Regions from separate parts of the Homo sapiens genome. Here region 1 is linked to region 2. The links come from fine-mapping of genetic effects on gene expression. Tissue or cell type: lung. Region 2 holds a variant in brackets; the other region holds the start of a gene. All regions are shown on one strand. Distances are from middle to middle.

What was found. PIP is the estimated chance that this variant, and not a neighbour inherited with it, causes the effect.
Region 1: it holds the start of GGH, and the variant in region 2 is fine-mapped to the expression of GGH in lung (TOPMed, PIP above 0.99).

Annotation. Positions count from the first base shown.
Region 1 is chr8:63,037,187-63,039,871 of GRCh38, reverse strand. GGH (gamma-glutamyl hydrolase) reads left to right here and starts at 1,066. Exons shown (of 9, transcript NM_003878.3): 1 at 1,066-1,212. The coding sequence starts at 1,104. RefSeq lists a silencer at 673-1,032.
Region 2 is chr8:62,915,043-62,917,727 of GRCh38, reverse strand. All of the region lies in intron 4 of NKAIN3 (sodium/potassium transporting ATPase interacting 3), which reads right to left. Among named protein-coding and RNA genes, the nearest start is that of GGH, 120 kb to the left of the region's middle. The variant G/A (reference allele first, on the strand shown) is at 1,123.

The DNA.
Region 1 (2,685 bases), 120 kb before region 2:
AGACTATTCACTGCATTTACTCTTCTTGCAACATGCTAAAATTGTTCCTGTTGTCTCTACGAGTCACGCTTTCTGCCTTTTTTCCTTACTGAATTTAAACCTCTTGTGAAAAAGACTGTCCAATTTACGTTTTCACCCTTAATACTGAGCATTGATGTAGCAGGTTTTCAAATATTCTTGTTTTATGCTGAATTTCAGTTGGCCCTTATAGATGGAAACTTTCACTGAGTACAAGCTATATATCCATGTATTTAGGAACAATCAACAGTTTTAACGAATAGGAACCAGTCATCTTTTCTGCCCCGGTGGATAGGCTTAGTGGTGGTCGGTGGATGGCGCTGACCGCGGTTGATCAGAGGAAGCTGACGCCGTTTGCAGGCGTGGCCTGGGCGTGCCCGCTTCAAAGTAGACGCCCGGAGTTGGCCCAGTTCTGACCCTAGTGATGCGCCTGTGCGTGTGTTCCTATCGCCGTCCCGTCTTCACTTCCTACAGATGCCGCGACCCCCCAAATAGCAAGTGTGGACATTCACATTCAGGGGCACAGGCTGTCCGTACAGCGAACGTTGTCACCATTCCCGGAGATAGGGCCCCGACCTTCAAGGGGGCGGTGCGGTTGGCGCGCAGTTCTCAGGCGCCTTCTAGAATCCCCTGCCAGCCTCCCCGCTGCCTGGTTACCAAACTCGGCCGGGGACACCCAACCTCCCCTCTCGAGGACCTGGGTTGGCCAGCCCAGCTTTGTACGGGTGACTGAAGTCCACATCGACGTAACAGTTGAAAGGGAAGGACGCGGAGACCACCCGGTACCCGCCCCAGGCGTTTCCAGAGTCTCCGCTTAGGCGGCCCGTGGGGGTCGGGGTCGCGGTCGCGGTCGCGGACCGGGGACAGAGCAATGGGGCGGGCGCGCAGCGCCGGCTGCACTCCCAGAGCCTCCCACCGCCGCCCCACGGCCGCCTAGCGCGCGCCGGGACTGCATTTCCCATAGGCCCACGCTGCGGAGCACCGCCCACCCGAGTCTCACGCGAGTGCGCTGCCGCGAGGTGTCCCTGCCGCAGCCCCCGCCCGCCCGCAGAGCTTTTGAAAGGCGGCGGGAGGCGGCGAGCGCCATGGCCAGTCCGGGCTGCCTGCTGTGCGTGCTGGGCCTGCTACTCTGCGGGGCGGCGAGCCTCGAGCTGTCTAGACCCCACGGCGACACCGCCAAGAAGCCCATCATCGGTAAGGAGGCTGTGCGGGGCCGCAGCAGACGGGGAGGAGCTGGGTGTTGGCGCTGGGCGCCTCCCGCCGCCGCGCTCCAGCTGGCGCGTCCCGCCGGGAAAAACCCCCAGATGTGCTTCGCTTTTGGTGCAAGGAGGAACCCGGGCTGGGCACCATTTAGGTCGTACTGAAATGTACCTGGTTGAGGTACCTCGTTCATTCCTTTAGACTCATATGACTCTTAAAGGTGGGAGGGAGGAGGGTGCACCATGAAGAATCCTGCGGATTTTCTTTTTTTGTACACAGCTAGGAATTTCTACTAAAATAAAACATTTCCTTTTCGCACATAGTTGGGAAGTTTTACTCATTTACATCTACAAATTCTGTACATGCATTGCATTCATCAAAATGTATTGATGGCGTATTTAAAATACCAGTGCATTGTAATAGAAAATCAAGAAATTAAGGTATAACTTGGATTTTGTCATGTTCAGTAGCAGAGGACAACAGTGGCTGATATCCTAATGTGAGTTCTATTTGGTGTTAAAATGCAGCCCACAATTTTTCGTTTCCAACATATTTGTGTTTTAAAGAGGTAGTAAAATCAGTCTGTGTTACCAAAACACACATTTGAGACAGGCCCAAGGAAAGCTACCTAGGAGAAATCATCCTGGGGTTAAAATTTGCCCAAAGAAATTTGTGTGTGGACATTAAGATTAGTTTTATTTTGGCTGTAGGATTATGCCTTTCATACTATTTTTTTCTATGAATATTATCACTGTATTCTGTAACTAAACAGAAAGTAGATGAATGTTTTTTCATATAGGTAGTGCCCAGTTTTCAAATGGGTTGCTTACTAATATTTGGAACTTATTTCATAGCTGTTTAACATGGTGATTTGATTCTCCACGAATTAACTCAAGCTGTAATTAATGTAACAGGTTGCATATTGTGTGTCCAGAGAAGAGAAAAAAAAGCAGAGGGGATTCTTCCCCTTTCCTAGAATCAGGGGTAGCCCTGCGTCAAATATTTAAAAAAGGGACTTTGCTTTTGGTCACTGAGATCAGCACAACATCGTTAACTGAGTACCGACTATGTACACAATCTTGCTCTGGGAAGTGCAAAGGATTGAAAGATGACAAGCCACAAAAGTTGTGAGATGGCCTTAAATTATTGGTGGAATTTTGGTCATATTTTGAGGGACAGGGAGAACAGCTTGAGCTCTTTTCCCAGGGATGGGAAAAGTGAATATGCGTGGGCCCAGGGGAAGGGGAGATGTTGGTGGAACTCACTCTGATGTACTTCTCTTTCTGGTACCCTTGTGCTCCCATGATGCCCCATGTCTCCTTTGTGGTACCTCACCCCATGTACCCTGTACCACTCCATTTCCTATGACACTCCTAGTTCTTCGTTCCCTAGCCAAACTTTGTTATTCCTTAGTGAAGATGATCTTACCTACCAGTAAGGAGAAAAAGTTTTACTGAACAAATTTTG
Region 2 (2,685 bases):
ACTTACTATAAGCACTTCAATAGGTATGAAAAATAGATACTTGATAGCTGCTATAGTTTATCTTCTTGTCTTTGTTAACGTTTGTTTCTACCCTTTAACCCCATTATAAAATAATACCGGGAAAAGAAACTTTTTCTGATAGTCCTGGTGTCAAAGGCTAAAGTTTCCAATGCAGAGAACAAGATATCTGGGGCTTTTGACTGCCCATGTGAATTAGGACCCTGAGCTTGTCATCCATCTCTGGACTGTCTGGACAAAGGCCAAGAAGCCCTGAGAGGGTGAGAGGTTAGGGAAAAGTTTAGGGTGAGGTCTTAGGAGAAGGACTTACAGAGAAATCTGCCAGGGTGCTGATGGTTCCTCCCACCCAGCGGGCACCTCCTCTCACCTCAAGCCAGGTGAGGGGGTGCTGCGAAAGCACTTGGGGAGCTTAACATTTCTTACATTTTGGGAAGCATGGGGCTTGGCACCCAACTCACACTTGGAAGAGTCAGAAGGCAAGAGGCTGTGTCTAGAGGGGCTTTTGGTTACAGTGTGTGGAGACAGGACTGGGTGGAATTGGCAGGGCAGGATGTGTGTGTGTGCCCTTAGCCTGGGGGTAAGGCCTCTGGAGAGATCTTCCTGTGCTGTTCTGGAGTTGGAGCCATCCCAGAGGACTTCCTGGTAGGGCAGGTGACCTCAGAAGAAGGATGGTGGTACTTTGGCTATAGAAGCCAAGTAGGGGTGCAAAGTGGCAAACCAGGGAGGCTGATCATCCGAGAAACAGGTAGGGATCCTAAAGGGGGGTGGGGTGGGATTCTGAAGAACCCCTAAAAGCACCCCACAAGAAGAAGCATGAGCGTGTGGGAGCTGTCACACTCAGAGAGTATCCCTGCCAGATTACAATGGAACCCGTCATGCTAACACCTTGTTTCCTCCTTTTCTCCCATCATTTCTCCTTCTACTTCATCCCCACGATAACGCAGAGGAACAGTGAGAGAAGTGGGGTGAGAAGAGGAGGAAGCAGTGTTGTGTTCCTTCCTCTCTGCAAATCTGCAAGTTGAAATCAGGCCCAAGCTGAGCGGGAGAGTTTTTAAGTGGATGAGAATTTGCAGTAACCTGGACTAGATATTTAATATCTCTGAG[G/A]AGCTAAAAGAGCTATAAATTCTGCTTGAAATATGATCCAAAGGGTGAGACTGAACAAAGCCGTAATGTGTACTTGAAGGGACAGTGAGAGAACAAACAAAATTGCCTTTCAACTGTATTCTACCAACCCATTCAGTAAACCAGTTACATACACAAGAAAGAAATGGTCCCTAATCCCATCACTAATAACTTTACAATAGATTTCTCTCCAATCTTTCTCTCTTGCAGTTGCTATATATCACTTATACTCTTATGACCCAAGTTAATACTCTTCATAAGCTTAATTATTAATGACTACATAAATTTGTATTATTTAAATATACTGCTATGTATTAATGTTCTATTATTGAAAGTTGTTTTCAAGTTATAAATAATATTGTGAAAAATATTAATGCTTTTCCTGAATTTTTGATGATCTGATTCCCAGAGGTAAAATTATTATTTCAGAAGTGCCATTGAATATTTTTATGACTATTTTTTACACATTATTGGTTTTTGGAAAGTTTGTATCATCTATCCTATCACAGCAGTGACTGACAATGCCTGCTTTTCCATACCATAGGAGAGTTCCACTTAAAGATACATGCCAAGAAAATAAACAAAATGGCATCTCTTCATTTATTTATTTTTGCAATAGTTCTTTTTCATCTGATGTATTTTCATATTTTATTAGCCATTTATGTTTTTTATTTTGTGAATTACCTCAGAGGTTTTTTGCTCATTTATTAACTTGATCTTGCTTTCATTAATTTATATGAGGTCTTATGGGGGAAAAAGCCTTTGCTGTATTTGTTGCAAATTTTTGTTTCTTTATGTTGGCCTGTGATAGTGATGGTTTCATAACGTCGGGACATTTTCTTACTAAACCATATGTTAGAAGGCTTTTGCCAGCAAACAACTTTCTAGTTCTTGGTGGGTTCTCCCTTAGGGGTGTGTGTGTATATGTGTATACCTGCAAGCATGCATACATGTAAATCAAGAACTCTCTTGCATTAGTTTTCGGTTGCTGCTGTAAGAGATTGCTGCAAACTTAGTGACTTAAAACAACACAAATCTTACAGTTCTGAAGGCCAGGTGTCTGAAATGGGCCTTACGAGGCTAAAATCAAGGTGTCAGCAGGGCTGTACTCCTGGAAGATCTGGCAAACTCTGTTTCCTTGCCTTTTTCAGCTACTAGAGGATGCCTGTGTTCCTTAGCTACTGATTCTGTCTCAGGCTGCCATCTCCCTGGTCCTTCCTCCCCTGCCTTCCTGTCCTACTGTTAAGGATGCTGGACACACCTGGACAACTTAGGACAATTCCTCCATGTTAAGGTCACATGATTATCAATCAATTTTATCTGCAACCTTTATTCATTCTCGTTTGCCATGTGCAATGATTTATTCACAGGTTCCAGAGATGAGGACGTGGAAATCTTTAGGGAACTGTTATTCTGCCTATCACATCTGTGAACTCATATTTAGACTCGCAGCAGGTTCTGCACAATTTAGGCCACAGTGGAGATGGAGAAATGACACTGAGAAAATTGCTTAAGTCTTACACAGGAACAGAAAACCAAACATCT